Homo sapiens: one gene and its partners. Each later gene encodes a partner of the first gene's protein in a complex. Each region holds a gene or a part of one and is shown in the gene's direction. Other genes may lie near its edges.

Evidence for each region.
Region 2: TAF12 (region 1) and TAF8 share a complex: the UniProt entries of both Homo sapiens proteins name them as parts of the TFIID basal transcription factor complex.
Region 3: TAF12 (region 1) and TAF6 share a complex: the UniProt entries of both Homo sapiens proteins name them as parts of the TFIID basal transcription factor complex.
Region 4: TAF12 (region 1) and TAF3 share a complex: the UniProt entries of both Homo sapiens proteins name them as parts of the TFIID basal transcription factor complex.

What each region holds. Positions count from the first base shown.
Region 1 is NC_000001.11:28,602,318-28,605,072, reverse strand, and holds the end of TAF12 (transcription initiation factor TFIID subunit 12), read left to right. Parts: intron 1-1,498; coding exon 1,499-1,534; 3' UTR 1,535-2,223; downstream 2,224-2,755. UniProt on the Homo sapiens protein: The TFIID basal transcription factor complex plays a major role in the initiation of RNA polymerase II (Pol II)-dependent transcription.
Region 2 is NC_000006.12:42,067,503-42,074,539, forward strand, and holds part of TAF8 (transcription initiation factor TFIID subunit 8), read left to right. Parts: intron 1-962; coding exon 963-1,105; intron 1,106-3,844; coding exon of another isoform or gene 3,845-3,966; intron 3,967-7,037. UniProt on the Homo sapiens protein: The TFIID basal transcription factor complex plays a major role in the initiation of RNA polymerase II (Pol II)-dependent transcription.
Region 3 is NC_000007.14:100,116,352-100,123,793, reverse strand, and holds the start of TAF6 (transcription initiation factor TFIID subunit 6), read left to right. Parts: upstream 1-4,435; 5' UTR 4,436-4,590; exon of another isoform or gene 4,591-4,914; intron 4,915-5,144; exon of another isoform or gene 5,145-5,319; coding exon of another isoform or gene 5,320-5,398; intron 5,399-6,779; exon of another isoform or gene 6,780-7,192; coding exon of another isoform or gene 7,193-7,280; intron 7,281-7,442. Other genes in the region: CNPY4 (protein canopy homolog 4 precursor), read right to left, coding at 888-1,010, 1,217-1,313, 1,409-1,535, 3,932-4,049. UniProt on the Homo sapiens protein: The TFIID basal transcription factor complex plays a major role in the initiation of RNA polymerase II (Pol II)-dependent transcription.
Region 4 is NC_000010.11:7,821,505-7,828,541, forward strand, and holds part of TAF3 (transcription initiation factor TFIID subunit 3), read left to right. Parts: intron 1-2,813; coding exon 2,814-3,056; intron 3,057-7,037. UniProt on the Homo sapiens protein: The TFIID basal transcription factor complex plays a major role in the initiation of RNA polymerase II (Pol II)-dependent transcription.

The sequences.
Region 1 (2,755 bases):
ACCTCCTTAATGAAATCTTCCTTCATTGTTGCTGATTGCAACACCATATATGGTCCTATGAAGAGAGGGCAGGTTAAAGAAAGCAAAAATGTGCTGTACTTGTTCTGAGAGGTAGTATCCAGGCTGCCGTGCTGGACATTCTGGCCTGTGTCCTGGTTTTACCTTTGAACAAGGTTCCCTCTGAACAAGGAACCTAGGAGTCAGTGTGAGAATACTACTTCTGCTGTGGAGCAAGTCATCCCCATCTTTGGTCAGTCCAACAGCAGTGTTGGCCTCCCTCTGACAAGGCTGTTATCCTTTCTGTCTTAACTTAAGTGGCTACTCTGATTTGAAACGTGAGCTTTTTCCAAGCTTAGCAGGCACAACTGGGCAGTCCTGGTTGAGTGCCCCTGCTTCGCCATAGCCTGGTATCTCTGGAGCCGGTGTTTGTAAAGCTCACGAAGCAAGCCCTAAAGGGAAGCCACCAGTTTCCTGAATGGAAAGATTGCACTGTTCAGAAGAGAGTCCCTGCAAACAATGGACTGTCACTTTGTGCTCCCAAGTTAACCATTTTCAGCCCTATTTATTTAGTCGACAAATGCCATAATATTGGTATTTGGTCAAAAAGAATGAACAAAGTAAGTTGTTAATTTGGCTAGTAGCTAGTAATAGTAAAAGAATTCAGATCATGAAACCTATGATCTGAGTGTTTCCATGATGGACTGTGGTAGAAGTTGTTAGTCTTCAGTTTCCCTTCAATGCAGGTCATGAGATGTGAAATGTCAGCTCCCTTTGTGTGTGGCAACACTTTGAAATTGAGGCCCCTTCCCTATTGTGTCCATCATTGGAGAAAAGATTGGGGTCAGGGGACCCCAGAAAACACATGCTTGGCCAGGCGCAGTGGCTCATGCCTGTAATCCTAGCACTTTGGGAGGCCGAGCCTGGTGGATCACTTGAGGTTAGGAGTTTGACACCAGCCCGGCCAATGTAGTGAAACCCTGTCTCTACTAAAAATACAAAAATTAGCCAGGCGTGGTGGCACGTGCCTGTAATCCCAGCTACTGGGGAGGCTGAGGCAGGAGAATCACTTGAACTTGGGAGGCAGAGGTTGCAGTGAGCCGAAATCATGCCACTGCACTCCAGCCTGGGCAACAGAGCGAGATTCCATCTCAAAAAAAAAAAAAAGAAAGAAAGAAAACACATGCTTTGCCAGCTTATTCTCTAAGTCACCAAAACTCAAGAGCTGTCACTTTCTCCTGCTTTTAACTTTTTTGCCATTCTGCTAGCCTAGAGCAGTTTGGTGGATGAAATGGGTCCACTAGCCCATCTAAACATCTCTTGGGGCCTTGCAGACTGCTCTCTGGTTAAAAGGAATCTACTGAGATGCCTTGTGACTGCAGGTCTCTGAGGGCTGCGGCCTACAGTGTAGACCATGAGGCCTGCTAGCCACACAGAATGTTCCAGAAAGCTCCTGACTCCAGCTGCTGCTGTATAACTGCTTATTTGTCTCTCCTTTCAGAGAATGGCATTGATCCGGAAAACAACCAAGAAATAACACACGGAAAGGTCAGGGAATGGACAGCAATGTATTTGGAGATACTTGAGCTGAGAACTCAGCCATCTCATCCTTGGATTTTTTTTTTTAATGCTTTACAGAGAAGCATATATTTTTTATTAACAGTGCAGCAATATCTATAATGACTGAGAGGATCTGCCAAAAGAATAAAGCCTCCTACCCCAACTTCCGGTCCCTTTTCCCTGCCATCTCAAAGAGGAGCAATGTATCTTCCAGAGAAGATTTTATTTGTGGTTTATTATATAAGTGACTGAATATGGGACAAAGCATTATGGTCTTTTTGGGTAAGACAGTATTAGCAGGATTTGTAAAGGGTTTTGTTTCCTTCTCCCTTCCCCTTTTCCCTGTACTTTGTAATGTCAGTGTTTATATGAATATGACTTTCATTTGCTTTTCCAGAATAAAGAAGTTATTAATCGAAAGACAGGGTACCTTTGAAATCCCAGAGGGAGTCAGGACAAGCAAGCCTGGATTGTAGCTCTCTAGTCAGCAGGTGGCAGCATCGTTATTCATTTTGGTGTTTGAGAAAAACTCAGGGATTTTCCATCATTTTACCCCAAGGGAGGCCATAACATCAGCAGGAGTTTGAGTCCAGCTTCTCGGCCATAAGAATTGAGTAGGGTGACCTTCTCTCACGGCCCTCAACTGAAGAGGCATCCTTGTTTTGGCAATGTTATATGCCTAAAAACCCTTTTTGGTTTTTTTTGTTTTTTTTTAATTTTTTTTTTTTTGAGACGGAGTCTAGCTCTGTCACCCAGGCTAGAGTGCAGTGATGTGATCTTGGCTCACTGCCACCTCAGCCTCCCAGGTTTAAGCGATTCTCCTGCCTCAGATTCCCAAGTAACTGGGGTTACAGGCGCCTGCCGCCACACCGAGATAATTTTTGTATTTTTAGTGGAGATGGGGTTTTCACTGTGTTGGTCAGACAGGTCTCGCACTCCCAAAGTGCTGAGATTACAAGCGTGAGCCACCGCGCCCGGCCTAAAAACCCTTTTTGACCTGCTCTTCTGGAACTCCTGGAGAAAGCTGTGTTTGTCCCTGTCCCTGAGAAAGGATGGGAGTAGGCCCCTGTCCTCAGGATAGGCATGTCTGTGCAGGTGCCCATCTCTTCTTAGTTGCTGTTATCTTTGATCCTGGTGTTTTCACCATCATGCAGAAGAAACCAGGCGCCTTCCAGACCTCTGGGTCATGTCCTTCAGT
Region 2 (7,037 bases), on another chromosome or scaffold:
CCACACCCAGCCAATTCTAGAGTATTTTCTAACAGTCACATTCTACCATAGAAGTACACACAGAGACTTTTTCTTTTTCTGTTTTGAGACAGGATCTCACTTTGTCGCCCAGTCTTGAGTACAGTGGCACAAACAGCTCACTGCAGCCTGGACCTCCTGGACTCAAATGAGTCTCCCACCTCAGCCTCCCTAGTAGCTGGGACTACAGGCATGCACTATTATACCTGGCTAATTTTATTTTTCCTAGAGACGGGATTTCACCATGTTGCCCAGGCTGGTCTCAAACTCCTGGGCTCAACCAGTCCTCCTGCCTCAGCCTCCCACAGTGCTAGGATTATGGGCATGAGCCACCACACCCGGCCTTCTTTCTTTTAATGTTATTTTTTATTCAATTTCTTCCTCTCATCCTCATTGCTTTTTGGAAGAGCTAGAACTCTCATTGACCAGAGTGTCTTACAGCTCAGTGGACATGCATATATGCAGAGTGCTCAAATCCAGCCTTTGGACTTGAGTCCTTCAGGGTAAAAGAATCAATATTCCTGCTCTGGAAGTGAAGCTTAGAGGGGTTTAACTGACCTTGGGTGCAGGATCTCAAAACTTATGTGTTGCTAGGATTCTATCTATAGCCTCATTTCCATCTTATCTCAGTTGTACTTGGCAAAAAGTAGATTCTGAAGTCATGCTGCTTGAGTTAGAATCCCATTCTGCCATTTTTAGCATGCTTGGGAAAGTCATTTCACCTCTCTGTGCCTAATCGTACTTAATAGGATGGGAGCAAGGATGAAAGATAACATGAGTAAAGCCCGTAGAACATTGCCTGGCCTGTTGTGTAAGTACTTGGAGCGAGTTAGCTAGTATTATCTTCTGGTGCTGCTCACTGATTTGTTGTGAGGCTCTAGGACTCTAAGCCAGCTGCGAGGTCTCTGTGACAGTGGACTCATGCCTCTCTTCCAATTCGCCAGTGATTGCTGCCAGACCTTTCACCATCCCCTACCTGACAGCTCTTCTTCCGTCTGAACTGGAGATGCAACAAATGGAAGAGACAGATTCCTCGGAGCAGGATGAACAGACAGACACAGAGAACCTTGCTCTTCATATCAGCATGGTGGGTTCCACCTTCTGCCTACCTCAGAGTATCCCCCAAACTGTCGCACACTGCCCTCAGTCTGTCACCCTGGGACCTGGACATGATCGACCTCAGGTCTCTTTGGCTTTCTGTTAGGGGCCTGCATAAGGGCTTGCGTGATGATCCAGATGTGACCCAATCTCCTGCTTAGAGACACATCCGTGTCCTGGGGATTCACTCGTTCATTCAACAAATACAGTTCCAGGTGCTGGGATATTAGTAGGAAGCCAAATAAACAAAATTCCCTGTCCTCATGGGGCTAATGAAAAATAATAAATGAGGAGATAGGAAGTGGGGATGGGAATGGGAGGGATGCAGTATTAGGTAGAGTGACCGAGAAGGGGGCATTTGAGTAAAGACCGGAAGGGAACAAGGCATGGACATGTCTGGGGGTGGAGCCATTCTAGGCAGCAGGGGCAGCAGATGCAAAGGCCCTGAGGCAGGAGCTCCCCTGTTGTATTGAAGAACAGCAAGGACATCAGGGTGGCCAGAGTGGAGTGAACAAGGAGGAGAACAGTAGGGGATGAGGTCCGAGAGGGCCCACGGGGAGTCAGATCTTACAGGGTCTTAAAGGTTAGATTAGACACTTTGCCATTTACTCAGTAAGGTGGACCCACTGGAGATGTTGAGCAGAGGAGGGTCAGGATCCAAGGTAGGTTTGCTAACAGGGTCAGTCAGGTTGCTGTGCTGAGGATGGGCTATAGAGGGCAGGCAGAAGCAGGGAGACCAGTTAGGATGCTGTCACAGTAAACTGAGAGATGGTAGGAGGAGCAAAAATAAGGAGATGTGGTCACCTAGATCATTTGGTCAGATTCTAGATCACTTTCAGAGCAGAGCCAGTTGATAGAGTAGATATGAGAGTTAAAGAAAACGGTAAGGTTTTTTGCCTGAACAATAGGAAAGATGGAATTGCCTTCAGCCAAGATAGGAACAACCACCGGGTAGAACAGGTGTGTGGGGGAAGTCAGGAGTTGATGTTCGTGTCTTAAACATAGATGTGTTAAGTTTGAGATGCTTGTTAGACATCAGGCGGTGATGTCAGGTGAAGAATTGGATATATAATTGGAGTTTGAGGAGCAGTTAGGGCAGGAGATGCGTATTTGGGAGCCAGCAGCCTGTAGGTCGTGTCTAAAAACATGAGCGTGGATGAGCTCTTCCAGGGATGAGTGAGGATAAGAAGAGGAGGCACATTGAGTCCTGGAGCTGTTGCTGTGTGTAGAGCTTGAAGAGATGAGGAAGAACCAGCATGGAGGTGGGAGAACTGGAAGAGGGCTGTGTCCTGGAGGCCAAGGGAAGTAAGTGTTTCAGGGAGAAAAGAGCAATTAGCTGTGTCCAAAGCTGTGGGTGGCTCCAATGGTAGGAGGACTGAGAATTCAACCATTAGATCTGGCAGTGTGGATGTCATTTGTGACCTTGATGAGAGCCATTTCAGTAAGAATGAGAGCGAAGACCTGGAGTAAATTCAGAGAGAATGGGAGGAGAGAAGAGGAGTCAGTGAGTATAGACTTGTGCTGTCCCTTATAGCAGCCACTAGCCACGTGTAGGTATTTAAATTTAAATTAATGAAATAAAACTAAAGGCCGGGCGCGGTGGCTCACGTCTGTAATCCTAGCACTTTGGGAGGCTGAGGTGGGCAGATCACGAGGTCAGGAGATCGAGACCATCCTGGCTAACATGGTGAAACCCGATCTCTACTAAAAATACAAAAAAAAAATTAGCCAGGCGTGGTGGCAGGCGCCTGTAGTCCCAGCTATTTGGGAGCCCGGGGCAGGAGAATGGCGTGAACCTGGGAGATGGAGCTTGGCGTGAGCCAAGATCGCGCCACTGCACTCCAGCCTGGGCGACACAGCAAGACTCTGTCTCAAAAGAAAAGAACTGAAAATCAGTTCCTTAACCTCACTAGCCACATTCATTTCAAGTGTCTGATAGCCACATACGGCCAGTGGCTGCTCTACTAGGCAGTGCAAATATTGAACATTTCCATTGGCACAGAAAGTCGTGTGGTGTTCCTGCAGTACAGGGAGGGAGAGTGATGCAGTGGTAACTAAAAGGGGGAAAATGAAGGAATTAAGAGAGGTGTTTCGTGTTTTTATTTTTTAAGATAAAAGAAATAACGTGTTTGTATGCTGTTGGGAATGATCTAGTCAAAAGGGAAAATGGATACAGGAGAGAAAGAAAAGTCTGGGAATGATGTCATTTGGTAGACGAGAGGGGATGGGCCCGTGACCAAATGGAGGGACTAGCCTTCTTCTGGACATTTCATACCCAGGATAGGAGACAACATGTGGGTTCAGAGACAAAGGTGGGCAAGGAGGTGTTCTAGTCCTAGTTTGTTTTAGGGTATACTTTCTTTTCTGCTCACCGGTGTGTCATACTCAGCGAGTGAAAGGATAAGAGCCCCCTCTTGTTCCTGCACCCTTGGAGAAAGTGCCAAGTACAATCGCAGAACCGCCAGAAGCTGGAATGCCCTTAAGGCTAATAGGGTTATATAGTCAGGTTGCCATATTCAACCATCCTTTAAAATCAGCACTAGTTTGGATGCCTTAGTGGCTGTAGTTGGACTGAGCATCCCTTATGTTCTCTAAGATGTGATACCCCAAATGGCAGCCAGCCACCCTGGGTTGCTAGTGGAATATGCCTGTGTCATCTCTATTTGCTGAAGGTCTTATTTGCCTGGACATACTTTTTTTTTTTTTTTTTTTTTTTTTTTTTTTTTAGATAGAGTCTCGCTCCGTCACCCAGGCTGGAGTGCAGTGGCAAGATCTTGGCTCACTGCAACCTCCGCCTCCTGGGTTCAAGCGATTCTCCAGCCTCAGCCTCCTGAGTAGCTGGAATTACAGGTACGCACCACCACGCCCGGCTAATTTTTGTATTTTTAGTAGAGACGGGGTTTCACCGTGTTGGTCACGCTGGTCTTGAACTCCTGACCTCATGATCCACCCTCCTTGGCCTCCCAAAGTGCTGGGATTACAGGCGTGAGCCACCACACCCGGCCTGGATATACTTTTTTTTTTTTTAAATATTGAATTATTCCTTTCAGAATTAGGGCTGGGAGACCATGGCTTTAAATAAAGCAGAGGAAATTGTTATTGTACGCTTCTGTTAATTTGGGCTGAGATATGGTGATTGGGTCATGGACTAAGTTGAGGTTCACCTTATGAGAAAGAGGAATCATGTAAACAAACGTCATCATACCTTTGTAAGTACAATATAGTTAAAGGGCTTGGACATGCATTCACTGACGGTCCCGTAGTGATGTGAGGTCATGGTGGTAATTGAACCTAAAGAGTGTCAGCAACCGCCTGAGGACTCTTGAATACCATGAGGCCAAGCCAGGGTTGCAGACAGCAGGAGTGTAGGAAGGCCTGAGTCTTAGAGTCAGACTTGCCTAGCTTCAAATCCAGGCTGTGCTGCTTGCCACATGTGTGACCGTGATTGTGTTACTTTACGCCTTAGTCTATTTTCTTGTAAGTAGAAACAGAAACACCTACCTCAAGGGACAGGGGGAGCGTGAGACAGAGCTGGTATCTATCAGGTGCCTGGCATGTGGCAGCTCCTAGCACACACTGCTCCCTCCCCTGCTGTTTTAGGCTATCTAACCATATGCCCTTCTGTGAAAAATAAAATCAAATGACTCCAAGACAAAGATTCTAGTGACAATTTACTACAGTCAGTTGGACCTAATGTTATTTTGTTAGACTAGGAAATACAATCATATGTTTCAAAATGCAGAGTGTGCAAAAAGATGTATGGTGACAATCCCTCCCATCCTGTTCCCTGTTACCCACTTTCCCTCCCACAGAGCAACTGTCTCACCAGCCTCTTATGTAGCCTTCTAGAGACATTTTTTTAAATTGTTATTTTGAACTGAAACAGCAGATCACAAACTGTTCTCTTCTTGCTTTTTTCCTGGCTGTATCTTGGCGGTCATTCCACATCTGTAAGGGAGGAGGCGCATCGTTCCTCACAGCTACTTTATCTTCCATTGTATGGATGTAACCATTTAATTTATCTAGTCCCCCATGAACACTTAGGTTGTTTTCTGTCTTTACCATTTACAGACATTGTTATAGCAAAGTAAATAACTGGTTTTTTTGTTTGTTTTTTTTTTTGAGACCGAGTCTCGCTCTGTCACCCAGGCTGCAGTGCAGTGGCGTGATCTCGGCTCGCTGCAAGCTCCGCCTCCCGGGTTCATGCCATTCTCCTGCCTCAGCCTCCCCAGCAGCTAGGACTACAGGCGCCCGCCACCACGCCCGGCTAATTTTTTTGTATTTTTAGTAGAGGCGGGGTTTCACCGTGTTAGCCAGGATGGTCTCGATCTCCCGACCTCGTGATCCGCCCGCCTCAGCCTCCCAAAGTGCTGGGATTACAGGCGTGAGCCACCACGCCCAGCCAATAACAGGTATTTTAAATTATTATTTTATCTCTTGATGAGAGTGCACCTCTCAAGGTCTGTTGTTAGGCAGTACATTATTTAACCTGGTTCTAGTTTCTCCATGTACTTGAACATAAAGGAGCTATTCATTTTAAATTCATGTATAATTTAAATTCATGTATAATAGATTCTTTTCTCACACATTTGAACCAGCTGCTCTCTGCAGCCAACCCAGATATCTAAGCTTTTACTCTTTTATGAAAAATATACCAGTCACTCACTCAACCAGTGTTTATTTAGCACCTAGTATGTGCCAGATATTTTTTCTGGCTGCTTGGGATAAAGCAGTGAGAAAAACAAAGAAAACCTCTGCCTTTTAGGAGCAGAGTTTGGCTGTGGGAGAATGATACCAAACACAATATATGACTAAATCGTTGCATAGTATATCAGAAATGAAAGTGCTGTGTGGGGGAAAAACAGTAGGGGAAGATCCAGGGTGAGGAGGAGTCTTCAGTTTTTAAGTGGGGTGCTCGGAGTAGGCATTACTGAGAAGGGGATATCTGAGCAGGAGCTTGAAATGGGTGAGGGAGTGAGCCATGTGGATATCTGGGGAAGAGTGTTCTGGCAGAGGGAATGGGCAGTGCAAAGGCCCTGTGGAATAGTGAGTGGCTTGTGGGAGGGAGGGTCAGATTGGGTAGGGCCTTGTAGGCTATTTTAAGAGCTGGCTTTTAACTAAGAGAGATGGGAGTTGTGGGAGGGCGTGGAGCAGAGGAGGGATGTTTCTGAGCTTCTTAAAGCACCACTCTGATGGCTCGGTAAGAACGGACTAGAGAGATCAGTCAGGAAGCTGTCGCTATAGCCTAGGCGAGAGGCAGTGGTGGGCCCAAGTAGAGTGGTTGCCACAGAGGTGGTGGAAGTGGTCAGTGCCTGCCTGAATTTTGAAGGTAAGTCCAAGAGGCTGTGCTAACAGATTGGGTATGGGATGTCAGTGAAGGAAAAGGAGTGTGCCAGGTGTGGTGGTGCATGCCCATAGTTGCAGTCACTTGGGAAGCTGAGGCAGGAAGATTGAGCCCAGGAATTTGAGTCCAGTTTTGGGCAACATAGTGAGACCCTGTTTAAAAATAAAAGAAAGAAAACAAGCAAGAATGACCACAGAGTTTGTGACTCGAGCCATTAGAAGGATGGAGTTGCCATCACTTGTGATGGGAGGGACTGAGAAGCGCCGTTTACACCACAGGGGAAGGTCCCCAATTCAGACTTAGGTGCCTGAAGTCTGAACTGCCTACCTGATACCCCAGTGGAAATGCTGAGTGAGCAGCTGGCTGCATGAGCCTGGAAGTCGGGAGAGGTTAGGGCTGGCATTGTACTCCAGGGAGCTGTTGGCGTAGAGATGGCACTGAGAGCTGGGAGACTGGATGCAGTCACCACAGAGGGTGTAGGCCTTGCTAGAGCTCACAGGCAATTCAGGGAGCTCCTGACGGACCATTCTGCTCCCACTTTTTTTTACAAATCTCTGGGTCAGTTTGACACTTTACT
Region 3 (7,442 bases), on another chromosome or scaffold:
AATCCCAGCACTTTGGGAGGCCAAGGCGGGTGGATCACCTGAGGTCAGGAGTTCGACCAGCCTGGCCAACATGATGAAACCCCGTCTCTACTAAAATTACAAAAAATTAGCTGGGCGTGGTGGCAGGGGCCTGTAATCCCAGCTACTCGGGAGGCTGAAGCAGGAGAATGGCTTGAACCCGGGAGGCGGAGGTCGCGGTGAGCCGAGATGGTGCCGGTGCACTCCAGCCTGGGCAATAAGAGTGAAACTCCGTCTTGAAAAAAAAAATTCTTTAAAATTATTATTATTTGTAGAGAAGGGGGTCTCTTATGTTGCACAAGCTGGTCTCTAACTCTGGTCTCAAACAGTCCTTCTCCCTCAGACTCACTAAGTGCTAGCATTACAGTTGTGAGCCACTCCACCCGGCTCATTATGATTTCTTTTTTTTTGTTTTTGTTTTTGTTTTTTTTTTTAAGATGGAGTCTTGCTCTGTCGCCCTGGCTGGAGTGCAATGGTGCGATCTTGGCTCATGGCAACCTCCACCTCCTGGATTCAAGCAATTCTCTTGCCTCAGCCTCCCAAGTAGCTGGGATCACAGGCGTGCACCACCACGCCCAGCTAACTTTTGTGTTTTTATTAAAGACGGGGTTTTGCCTTGTTGGCCAGGCTGGTCTCGAACTTATGACCTCAGGTGATCCACCTGCCTCAGCCTCCCAAATTGCTGGGATTACAGGTGTGAGCCACCGCACCCCACCGCTCCTGGACCCACTTTAATCAATGGCACAGTCCTCACTCTGGCCCCTTCCCCATGCTTAGGGGTAGACATCCCCTATAGTCAAACCCTAGAACCTAGCTCCCCTCTCAGGTTCCCTTCTCACCTCCCTGGATGGTGCAGTGTCTTATCCTACCTGCTTCTTGAGGTATGTGACCTCCACGCTGGGCTCATCCCAAAGCTCCAGAGGGATCCCCAGATCCACCTTCACCCCCTTCTGCACTAGGCCTTTCAGTGTTGCCATGGTCTGACTCTGACCCTGAGAGATTAAGAATTTGGCATCAGCCCAGCTCACCACCCCACCCCTCCCTTCCCCTTTCTGCCATTTCAGTTTTGTCAACTACTGGAGATTCAAGGGTGAGTTCCATGATGGTGAGATGATGGGCAGATAACCTCTGGAGGGCCTCAGGGGATACAGATCTTTGTATCTGAGAAGTGGGGTCCTGCCCTGGGGAAGGGTCTGACCTTGGCATATCTCAGTGAGCCCTTGCGCTCAGCGTGAACACTATAGTCCAGGATCCGCTCACATAAATTCTCTAAGGCCTCTTCCAGCCTTGTCTCTCTGTGGAAAGAGAGGAAACAAAGATTCCCTGGATGCTGTAGGAACTCCCAGGGCTCCGTTGGGGGTTGGAAAGGGGAGGAGCACGAAGGACTCACGAAACGCTGTAAGGCACGTGTCTCTTCCTCTTGCCTGTATCCAGCACCTGCCCCAGCTCCAGCACCTCTCGAGATCGACCGGTGCGACTCAGTTCCGCCTGTAGCTCTGTGCTCAGCAGCTTACACACTGGTGGGGAGGAGAAACGTCCGGGGGGAGGTAAAAGACAAACACACCAGCCATTCATTCTGCAGATGACCTGAGGCAGCAGAGCATACAAGTGCAGACTATGGAGCCAGACTGGCTGGGTTGGAATCCTGGCTCAGCCATTTAGCAGCTGTGTGGCAATCTTCCTGCTTGCTGTGCCTCGGTTTCTTCATCTTTTTTTTTTTTTTTTTCAGACGGACTCTCGCTCTGTCGCCCAGGCTGTAGTGCAGTGGCGCAGTCTCGGCTCACTGCCAGCTCCGCCTCCTGGGTTCACGCCATTCTCCTGCCTCAGTCTCCCGAGTAGCTGGGACTACAGGCACCCACCACCACGCCCGGCTAATTTTTTGTATTTTTAGTAGAGACAGGGTTTCACCGTGTTAGCCAGGATGGTCTCGATCAGCTGACCTTGTGATCCGCCCGCCTTGGCCTCCCAAAGTACTGGGATTACAGGCGTGAGCCACCACGCCCGGCCGGTTTCTTCATCTTTATAATGGGATAATAGGCCAGGAGTGGTGGCTCACACCTGTAATCCCAGCACTTTGGGAGGCTGAGGCGGGCAGATCACTTGAGGAGTTCAAGACCAGCCTGGCCCACATGGTGAAACCCCATCTCTATTAAAAATACAAAAACTAGCCAGGTGTGGTGGTGCGCACCTGTAATAGCTACTCGGGAAGCTGAGGCAGGAGAATCACTCGAACCCAGGAGGTGGAGGTTGCAGTGAGCTGAGATCCCACCACTGCACCCCAGCCCAGGCAACAAAGGGAGACTCCATCTTAAAAAAAGTAAAATACATTAAAAATAAATAGGCCAGCACAGTGACTCATGCCTGTAATCCCAACACTTTGGGAGGCTGAGGTGGGTGGATCACGAGGTCAAGAGATTGAGACCATCCTGGCCAACATAGTGAAACCTTGTCTCTACTAAAAATACAAAAATTAGCTGGGCATGGTGGCGGGCGCCTGTAATCCCAGCTACTTGGGAGGCTGAGGCAGGAGAATCGCTTGAACCCGGGAGGCGGAGGTTGCAGTGAGCGAGATTGCACCACTGCACTCCAGCCTGGGCAACGGCATGAGACGCTGTCTGAAAAGAGAAAAAAAAAAAAAAAAAAAAAAAAAAAAAAAAAATATATATATATATATATATATATATAAAATTAATACAATTGGATAATAATAGTATGTCCCTCATAGGAGTGTGATGAAGATTAAATAAATCAACATATATAAAGGCTGGCACATAGTGAGCACTGTATAAGTATTCACTGTTATCCTGCAGTTATTTATTGAGCTCCTTCTGTATGCATACTAACAATATAGACAGCAATAAGACCTATTATCTCTATCTACAGGTCTCTGTCAGTGTAGTTGGGACAGATAAACCAAGGATGACAAGCTGTGGTGAAGCTGGGCCTGAACTCATGGGCTCAAGTGATCCTCCCACCTTGGCCTTCCAAAGTGCTGGGATTACAGATGTGAGCCACTGTGCCCAGGCCCGTTGGCTGTATTCTGATAGAAGGCCTGCAGAGGTGTTAAAGCAAGGACTGATACAATTAGGTGATTAAGTCTGTTTAAAAAGATTGACAGGTCAGGGGAGAAGAGCGGCACACGGAGGTGAAAGGAGACAGAGATGAGGACCAAGTCATGAGACTGTCATGACTGCCTTTCATGATACTGGAATACAGTTGAGGGGGTGAAGCGAAGAGAAAAGGAATCCAGGGAAGAAACGTAAAGTCAGGAGGGCAGCAAACTAGGGCATCAGGGCCAGCCCCCTTTCTCAACTGGGCCCCACGCTAGTGCAGCTATGGAAGGCGCTGCTTGCTGAAAAATCCATATAGTACGCACCGTCTGCAAAGTCTCACCGGATGGGGACACTCTCCTAGTTGTGTGGCTTCCTTTTGTTTATGAGCTTCAAAGGCTGAATTACTCACCCTCAAACCCCCTCAGCGGGGTGTGGGGCCTGTAATTTGGGAGCGTCTATGCTAGGGTAGGGCAGCGGATGTCCACAAGGCCTGAGCCTCACACCCGGCTCCTGCAGCCTCTGCAGATTAAGGTCTGGTGACATGAGGTAAACACTCACTGAAGATGCTCTAAAAGTTGGCAGTCCCGGGCCGATGGTCCCTGAACTACAATTCCCACAATCCATTGGCGGGCGGGGGGTTCCAAGCCAGCCAAAAAAATGCAGGCTCTCTCTGGATGCAGTTTGAGGTGGCACTACACGTTCGCTTCCTTGACCCCATCCAAATTCAGCCAAGCTCCACCAGAACCTCCCTCAAGCCTTCAAGGAGGTCGGGTGACCCACCCAATACAGGCTAGGATGTCCGGCCTAGAAGAAGGAGGTGTGGCCGGGCGATGCCTATAGGGGCTACCCCCTTCAAATACCTTCGCATTTGCTGGGCAAGCGTTCTGTGTCATCGTCCTCCTCCTTCAACATCCCAGCCCAAGCCTCGTGCACGGCCAAAAAAAGGAAAAGCAATATTCCCAACCGCACAGGTCCCATGACAAAGCGCCGTCTACAAACAATCACCGCTTGCCTTCAACTTCGGGAAGGTAGTGTGGGTCCCTTAAATTCCCAGGCGGCTAGCGGCAACCTTAAATCCAGCCGAGGAAGGTCGGCGCATGCGCAGGATCAGCCCAACAAGGGTGGGGCCTCGTTGCTACGGGTTTCCCTGCCTCCGTTTTGTGGCGCCTCTTGAAGGTCCTGGCAGCCGGGTAGTGAAGGAATAAATTGCAGTAATTACACCAAGAGGGAGTGCTCCTTATATATAGATGTAGAAACAAACTTTTAAAATATAATTTCATTCTGCGAGCCTAGAGGACTTATTCTGGTACGGGGAAGGGGCAGTGACTTGCTCTTAGGCTCTGCCAGGACCTGCTCCCACGAGGGGGCGGGGCCAAGATGGCGCCGAGCGCCGGGTGAGCAGCGTCTCGGCTGCCGCTAGAGTTTTCCTGCTCCCCGCGCTCGGGTGGCGGGGGCGGGTCTGAGTGGTACCCCGGAGGAGACCCTTTGAAGGTCCCTTGTGGGGACTGGAAAGAGGACGGTTGGTTGTGTGTCTGTGCTCGTGGGGACCCCGTGTGTGTGCCTGCATTGGAGAGATGTTGCAGGAGATGGGGTGGGCTCTCTGAACCTCCTTTCGCGCTGCCCGGGGATCTTCGACCTGCTTCTCTGCTGGGATCTCGCTTAAGTTAACCCTTCCCTGGGACGCCTTCCTGCCGCCTCCACTGATCTGAGGAGATCCTGTGACTGTAGCGTGTTTTATGAGCCTTTACTGGCAGAGGGTACCGCCGGGTATTGAAGGATTCGTAGGAGTTCGCCAGGGAAGTGGGACACGACCCCCTCTTGTAAACCCGGCGCCAGGCACAGAGTATGTCTCGAATAGTTGTGTTCCCTATAGATAAGACTTATAAAAGTCGGGGAGGAGATCAGGGATGGTTTGAAAAGAACCAATTTGTTTTTCGGCCTCCCTCTTCCCATCCTTCCAGCACGGCCCCACCCTACCTGTACTACTCCTAAGCAGTATTGATATGTTAATCTTCCTAATGTCCAACTGCAAGTGTGCCACTTTAATTTTTTTTTGTTTTTTTTTTGAGACAGGGTTTCCGTCTGTTACCCAGGCTGTTGTGCAGTGGCACCATCTTGGCTCACTGCAGCCTCCAACTCCTCAGTTCAAGCGATCCTCCTGCCTCAGCCTCCTAAGTAGCTGGGATGACAGGTTCACACCACCAGGTCCGTCTAATTTTTTAATTTTTGCAGAAATGGGGGTCTCACTATGTTGACCAGGCTGTCTCAAACTCCTGGCCTCAAACAATCCCCCCACCTCTGCCTTCCAAAGTGCTGGGATTACTGGGGTGAGTTACCTCTCTTGGCTCCAATTTGCTTTTTTTTTTTTTTTGAGATGGAGTCTCTCTCTATCGCCCAGGCTGGAGTGCAGTGGCACGATCTCGGTTCACTGCAACCTCCGCTTCCTGGTTCAAGCGGTTCTCCCACCTCAGCCTCCCAGATAGCTGGGACTACAGGCGCCCGCCACCATGTCTGGTTAATTTTTGTGTTTTTACAAAAAGACAGGGTTTCACCATGTTGGCCAGGGTGGTCTCGAACTCCTAACCTCAGGTGATCTTCCCGCCTTGGCCTCCCAAATTACAGGCGTGAGCCACTGCACCTGGCTCCACTTTGCTTTTTTTGTTTTTTTTTTTTTTTTGAGACAGAGTCTGGCTCTGTTGCCCAGGCTGGAGTGCAGTGGTGCGATCTCGGCTCACTGCAAGCTCCGCCTCCCGGGCTCACGCCATTCTCCTGCCTCAGCAGCCTCCCGAGTAGCAGGGACTATAGGTGCCTGCCACCATGCCTGGCTAATTTTTTCTATTTTTTAGTAGAGACGAGGTTTCACCTTGTTAGCCAGGATGGTCTCAATCTCCTGACCTAGTGATCCGCCCGCCTCGGCCTCCCAAAGTGCTGGGATTACAGGCGTGAGCCACCACGGCCGGCCCAGTTTGCTTTTAACTACAGTGTAGGCTCAAAGCTTGGGCCTATGACCTATTAATAATAGTGATACCAAGTATTTACTGAGCACCAATATCTCTAAGCCTTACAACTAATTCATTTACTTCACAAATATTTATGATGTCCCAGGCTGGGCTCCTGGAATACATCAGTGAACATAATAAAGAGCTCTGTCGGCCGGGCACAGTGGCTCACGCCTGTAATCCCAGCACTTTGGGAGGCCAGGGTGGGTGGAACACCTGAGGTCAGGAGTTCAAGACCAGCCTGAGCAACATGGTGAAACCCCATCTCTACTAAAAATACAAAAATTAGCCAGGTGTGGTGGCGCATGCCTGTAATCCCAGCTACGCAGGAGGCTGAGACAGGAGAATTGCTTGAATCTGGGAGGCGGAGGTTGCAGTGAGCCAAGATCGCGCCATTGCTCTCCAGCCTGGACAACAAGAGTGAAACTCTAGCTCAAAAAAAAAAAAAAAAAAAAAGAGCCCTGTCTAGATGGTGGACGGAGACGGGGTCTCACTCTGTTGCCAGGCTGGAGTGCAGTGGCACAACCTCTACTCACTGCAACCTCCACCTCCTGGGTTCAAGCAATTCTCCTGCCTCAGCCTCCCGAGTATCTGGGACTACAGGTGCACATCACCACGCCCAGCTAATTTTTGTATTTTTAGTAGAGATGGGGTTTAACCATGTTGGCCAGGATGGTCTCGATCTCTTGACCTCGTGATCTGCCCACCTCGGCCTCCCAAAGTGTTGGGATTACAGGCGTGAGCCACTGCGCCATGCCCAAAAGATGTTAAATGCTATGGAAAAGAAAAAGTGGGCTGCCCCCACTCTGAGGGCAGAGTGCAGAGTTAAATAGGGTGGTCAGGGTAGGCAGCCAATTAGATATTTGGGAAGAACATTCCAGGCAGAGGGAATGCAGCAAAGGCTATTAAGCAAGTACATACCTGGCAAGTTTAAGGAGCAGCCAGAAGGAATGTATGTGTCTGGATCAAAGTGGAAGAAGGAAGGGCGTTCAGAGATATAATGGGGAGAAGGTAATTTTGAAGGGCTTTGTAGGACATTATAAGGATTTCGTCTGTTTTTTTTGTTGTTGTTGTTGTTGTTTTTGAGAAGAAGTCTTGCTTTGTTGCCCAGGCTGGAGTGCAATGACACAGATCTTTGCTCACTGCAACCTCCGCCTCCCGGGTTCGAGTGATTCTTCTGCCTCAGCCTCCCGAGTAGCTGTGATTACAGGTGCCCGCCACCATGCCCATCTAATTTTTTTATTTTTAGTAGAGATAGGGTTTCACCATGTTGGCCAGGCTGGTCTTGAACTCCTGCCCTCAAGTGATCCGCCCACCTTCGTCTCCCAAAGTGCTAGGATTACAGGCGTGAGCCACTGTGCCTGGCCTGAGA
Region 4 (7,037 bases), on another chromosome or scaffold:
GGTGTTTGTTTCTTCTAAAAGAAATGTTCTCAAGTTAAAGCAAGTATTAGAAGTTACCATTAATTCAAATAATGAACAAATAATGAACTTAAGAATTGCCTTAGGGTAACAATGTCTCCAAGCATTCAAGGGCAGATGTCTCTGTCGGTGTCACATTATATGTTAAATATGTTGGCATGTACTGAAAGCAGGTGCTAAATCTTTCAGACTGACTCTTCAACACTAGTACTGTAATATTTTTTTGCATGGTACAGGGAGTAAATGTAAAAGGGATAAGAGGAGAGATGGCTGTAGGCTATAGATTCTGGGGTAGGATTACTTCACAGAAAAGATAAGATTTGAGTTGAGCTGTGAAGTATGGTTGTATAAAGGTATAGAGTATTCCAGCTTAGAGAATCACATAAACTAAGCTGTCCAGGTGAGATTAAGCATAATAAAAGTACCAGTAAGGTGTTCAGCTCCCTATGCAGCTAGTTCATTCCAAGGGTGTCTGAGTAAAATGTTCAACAGAGTGAGATCAGGTTATGGAAGGACTTGAAAGCTAGACAAAAGAATTAAAACATGTAGTAGAAAACATTGCATACTCCTAAGTAGGGGAATAGTATGATTAAAGTGGTATTTTAAGAAAATTGTACTGACAGTGATGTGCATAAGAGATTGAAGTGGGCAGAACTTGAGACTATACTGAGATAGTGACAGTAAGAATAGAGAGAAAGGAAAAAAATCTGAAATCATGGTTAAAAAAAAAAAAAAAAGGTGGCCGAAGGGGACGGGGACAGGGTTAGAAACTACCAGGTTTTGGTTTGAGGCTGCAAAGCATATGGAGGAATTTAAGATTATTATATTTTTTAGACTGAGAGAGTAATAATAGCTTTAATAGGAATAGAAGAGATGAAATGCCTGTTTACATTCAGTAAGAAGAAGAGTATTCGTTTTATTTATTTTCTTTTTTTAATGCATCACAGAAGTAACCCATACTTATAGAAAAAAAAAATCAAAGACTGCAGAAGTATGTGGAGTTAGAAGTCAGTCTCCTGCTTCCACCACAGCCCTCGCCTCTACTGCAGCTTCCACCCCTCGAACTGTTAACCATTGGCTGAATATCCTTCCAGAGGTTTCTGTATGCATTACTACACATGCGTCCAATTCTAGCAATATTTGGATTCTTTTTCATTTTACAGTGTGATTTAATTTCAGACATACTGAGTTTGAAGTGATCAAATTTCAGGATTTCAGTTAAAAAGTCAGGATTTCAGTTAAATCCTTTAGGCTATTGAAAATCAGAAAATGGAATTTTCATAGACATTTTTAAAGATGTAGAGACCTTAAGCTCTGCTAAGAATAGGCATAAGAAAAACTTGCTTTTGTAAAGAAAAAAATCTCTATATCTAACTTTTTATCTCTGTTTTATGTGGTGTTTTCTAATTACATTTGAAAATTTATAGATAAATTATCTTTATGGCTAGGCATGTTGGTGGTGCACTGGTAGTCCCAGCTACTCAGAAGGTGAAGGTAGGAGGATGGCTTGAGCCTGGGAAGGTAAGGTTGCAGTGAGCCATGATTGCCCTTCTGCACTCCAGCCTGGGCAGCAGAGTGAGACCCTGTCTCAAAAAACGAACAAAAACCAAACTTTTATGATCTAAGCCTTCTTTGTAAATATTCTTAGATTTTAAAAATTGATTTAATGGTATAATTCATTCAATAGGTATTTATTGAGTGCCAGCTATGTGCCAGCCACTGTTTAAGATTCTGCAGATGCATCAGGGAACAACAGAGGAAATGTAACCAACATTGACTTTGTCAGCACAGCACACTACTTATTTGATGATTAAAAAAAAAAAAAAGGCCAGGCACATTGGCTCATGCCTGTTATCCCACCACTTTGGGAGGCAGAGGCAGGAGGATTGATTGAGGCCAGGAGTTCAAAACCAGCCTGAGCAACATAGCAAGAACTCATCTCTACAAAATTAAAAAAAAAAAAATTACCCAGGCATGGTGGCATGTGCTTATAGTCCCAGCTACTCAGGAGACTGAGAGGGGAAGATCGCTTGAGCCTAGAAGTTTGAGGCAGCAAGGAGCTGTGATCATACCACTGCACTTCAGCCTGGGCAACAAGCAAGATGCCATCTCTTTTTTTTTTTTTTTTCTGAGATGGAGTCTTGCTCTGTTGCCCAGGCTAGAGTGTAGTGGCACGATCTCGGCTCACTGCAACCTCCGCCTCCTGGGTTTGAGCAGTTCTCCTGCCTCAGTCCCCTGAGTAGCTGGGATTACAGGCCTGCGCCACCACGCCCGGCTAATTTTTGTATTTTTAGTAGAGACGGGGTTTCACCGTGTTGACCAGGTTGGTCTCGAACCCTTGACCTTGTGATCCGCCCACCTCGGCCTCTCAGTGCTGGGATTACAGGCGTGAGCCATCGCGCCCAGCTAAGATGCCATCTCTTAAAAAAAAAAAAAAAGACAAAACACTATTTTATTATTATTATTTTTGGGGCATTTTCTGTGTGTCAGGTGCTGTTCCAGATGCTTTTGATCATCTGTAAACTACTTTGAAATTTGTTCTATAATAGCTAATCATGAATGTGGTTTTTCTGTGGTGTTCTGGCTAGTTGTCTGATTATATTTAAACTTGACTTTAATAATCAGCTTAAACATGATTCTGTGATACTCTTTAAAATCTATTAAATTCTTTCCAATAACTAGGTTAAAATGTTTGATTCTGAGCTGCATATTTACTTACTACTTTTTCTTAATATTTAAAAATATATTCGTGGGATTTCTTCAAATAATTTGATTTGCTTTTCACTTTGTTTCAGATGGCCGAACAGACCCAATTTTGGATGATGTTGGTGAAGCTTTCCAGCTGATGGGGGTTAGTCTACATGAACTAGAAGACTATATTCACAACATTGAGCCTGTCACCTTCCCACACCAAATTCCGTCATTTCCTGTTAGCAAGAACAATGTACTTCAGTTTCCTCAACCTGGAAGTAAAGATGCAGAGGAAAGAAAAGAATACATTCCTGATTACCTGCCACCCATTGTGTCTTCTCAAGAAGGTTTGTGAGTGTTTCTTCTTCATATGTTAGTGATTATTTTAATGGATTTTTAATCCTCTTAGCTTTCCATGCTATGTCAACTTTATAAATTCTGGAAACACAATAGAAACATTTACTGTTACTTACAAATTATTCTAACCCTTAAACCAACAAACTTGCAACTGACATTACCAAGCCGAGTCACGGTGTAATCAAGGTCATGTCTGAAGCATTTATCTCCTTTGTAAAGTTCAAGTAGAGGAAAACAGTGAAGCCAAAGAGAAGCCTTTCAACAGCCCTATTATATGAGAATGGGATATTAGGTAAATTAGAAAACATTTGAAACAAAAAGAAAAATTGGGGTAGCTCTTTTCCTCCTCGCTTATTATTCAGGCCATGAGTTGAATGCCATGGCTTTATACTGGAAACAGTGAGTGAATCGTGAGTATTCAGTGACATTGTGTAGACTTCTGTTTTTTATCATGAGGAGCAATGTTTATTGTTTGATCATATAGAACTTTTGATTATAAAATGATAGCTAATCAGGTATAATGGTCAGTCCAATTGCAGAGTTCCCTTTTTTCCTGCATAATTTTAGATGTTGATCACTAAGTTCACTAAGATTCTAAGGAGATATTTAAGTAATTTCTGGTCTCTAACACAAGTACACGATATTTTTTCTTATAAGAGTTGGAAAAGTTGCAATAAGTTCTTTCATTTTGTAAAAAATTCTAAAACCTGTATACTTCAGGACAATGCAAATGATGCCAGCAATTACTTTTACTTATGATTTTCTATTGTAAAATATACATAACATAAATGGACCATTGTAAAGGTGTGCAGTTCTGTGGCATTAAGTATACATTGTTATTCAGCCATCATCCCCATCCTTCTCCAGAACTTTTGTTCCCTCCCAAATTGAAACACTGTTCCCATTAAACATAACTCCCCATTCTCCACCACTTCCAGCCCCTGGCAACCACCATTCCTTTTTTTGTCTCTCTGAATTTGTCTATTCTAGGTACCTTTTATAAATGGACTTGGACATTATTTGTCTTTTTATGACTGGCTTACTTCACTTAGTATGATGTCTTCAGGGTTCATTCATGTTGTAGCCTGTGTCGGGATTTCGTTGTGTGTTTCGTTGTGTGTTTAAGGCAGAATAATATATGTACATTCCACATTTGTTTATCCATTCACTCACTGATGGACATTTGGGTTGTTTCAACCTTTTGGCTCTTGTGATTAATGCCGCTATGAACATCGATGTGCAAATCTCTGTTCAAATTCTTGCTTTCAGGTGTTTTTTTTTGGGTCTGTACCTTGAAGTAGAATTGCTGGATCATATAGTAATTGTCTATTTAATTTTTGAGGAAGCACCACACTGTTTTCCACAGTGGCTGTACCATCTAAGCTTCCTATCAGCAGTGCCCAAGGGTTCCAATTTCTTGCAATTCATTTCTTAGAATCGGTTCTACTTTAATAGCATTTTGAAGTGTTACCTATTTGTCTCAGGAAGTATGTTTAAATTTGGCATAAGTTGTTGTACAGTCTGTGTGTCAGGGTTGCCTCATCTGAAAAACTGGACAGCTACTGGACCTAAGTGGTAGGGATTTGTTGTGAATTGGTGGCTCATCATTTAGGTGCTCTGGATCTTAGCTGCAGTGGGTTCTACTGAATGATACTAACACACCGACAGCCCAGAACCAAAACTAGGACTTTGATCATAATCTACACTTAACTATTTGGTCCTTCTTGTCTTATTTTTATAGCATGCAAATATTCCATAATAAAATTCTCTTAAAGTGCTATGGTTATCATATTTAAATACTAGCAAGGAAATGTAACTAAGATAACAGGTTTAGATTAGGTAGTGAAGAAGTATGAAAAACAATTTAGTGTTTTTTTTGTTTTGTTTTGTGTTGTTTTGATACTGACTTCTGGCTGAAATTACTATATTACTATAGATTTTTGGGTTTCTTTTCTGGGTTATTTGAAGCAAAAAAAGAAACTCATTTAGTTTTATGCAAACAATATAAATTATAAACATTTTAAAAGGAAAATAACAAATCTTGAGAACACTACTTTTCACTTTTTATCTAACACATGTGGATTAAGAAGGAAAAATATTGCTGATTTGTAATATATGCATATGGTTTATAAGGATGCAGTAAGTGGTAGGCAGTACAGTAAGATGCTTGTCAAAACGTTCTCCTCTTCATAAGAAAAGGATATAAAATGCAATTCTTTGGTTACCATTTAAAAATATAACCATACAAGACCATTTCTTGTCATTTACAATCTGAAATATTTTTTTTTCATGGGTACAGCATGTTAGAAAGTTCCTGGTATTCTGATTAGTGGTGCAAAGTGAGGTACAGAGGTGAACCCCTTTGATAATGATGCTGTTCACCATGCTCTTTATTTTCCTTTTATTTCCTTAAGAGCCACAGACAGGCCAGACTTTGGTCTTAAAATATTATTAGCAAGGTCCTTCCATGGGGTTCCCTCTTATCAGCCACTCAGCTTGGTTCATGTCAAAAAAGCCTGTGAAAGTCTCCCTCCACAGCAGCTGGAGCTGGCGAGTGTGCACACATAGAAGGCCTGAAGGGGCAGCAGGCTGTGAGAGGCACAGCGTGGACCTCACGGCATCACTGAGACATGACTCAGCGAGTCACTGAGTTTCTGGTCTTCCCAAGTCACTTTACCTTTCTGAACTTTATATTCATCTGTAAAATAAGTGTAATAACACCTACCACATTGGGGAAATGGAGAATCAAGTAATTTTTTTTTGTTAACACATTTATATAAAATTGGACAGTGTTTAACATATAAAATACATAACAGTGGGCCAGGTGTGATGGCTTATGCACTTTGGGAGGCTGAAGCTTGAGCCCAGGAGTTTGATACCAGCCTGGGCAACGTCATGAGACCTCATCTCTACTAAAAATAAAAAACTTGGCTGGGCGCAGTGGCTCACGCCTGTAATCCCAGCACTTTGGGAGGCGGAGACGGGCGGATCACGAGGTCAGGAGATCGAGACCATCCTGGCTAACACAGTGAAACCCCGTCTCTACTAAAGATACAAATATTAGCTGGGCGTGGTGGCGGGTGCCTGTAGTCCCAGCTACTCGGGAGGCTGAGGCAGGAGAATGGCGTGAACAGAGGAGGTGGAGCTTGCAGTGAGCCGAGATTGTGCCACTGTACTCCAGCCTGGGTGACGGAGCGAGACTCTGTCTCAAAAAAAAAAAAAAAAACAAAAACAAAAACTTAGCTGGGCATGGTGGTGCACGCTTGTAGTCCCAGCTATCAGAGTCTGTGGTGGGAGGATCAGTTGAGCCCAGGGGTCAAGGCTGCAGTGAGCTATGATCACACCACAGCACTCCAGCCTGAGTGACAGCGAGACCCTGTCTCAAAAAAAAATAAAACACATGACAGCGAATATTAGTTCTCGTCCCCTTTTTCTTTTCTTGCTCTTAAATAATTTACTTTTGAATTGAAATACAATATACATTAGTGAAGTCACGCTATAAGGGGAATCGGTGTCAAGCTGCATTCAGTGGCACACCCATAGTCCTAGCTACTTGGAAGGCCAAGGCAGGAAGATCGCTTGAGCCCAGGAGTTTGAGGCTGTAGTGCGCAATGATTGAGCCTGTGAATGCCCACTGCACTTCAGCCTGGGCAACATAGCAGGACCCTGTCTCTGAAAAAAAGAGACGAATCAATGTAAAGTAGTGTTACCATCACGTGCTGAGGATCTGAGGGAACAGACTTACTAGCTGGGCTGGATAGGTACTTGACTGAGGAGCTGTGTGATTATCCGCAGTGTGAAGATGACAGATGAGGAGATGATGTGGAAGGAGTTATTGCCTGCTTTATCTGATTATATGTTTAGAAGTGAGACCTCTTTGAAAATATTTTATACATGCATATTTTTGCTTGGACTGTTACAGTTCTGATGGCTGGTACCCAGTGTGTTTTATCCAAGAACATTCTCTCCCC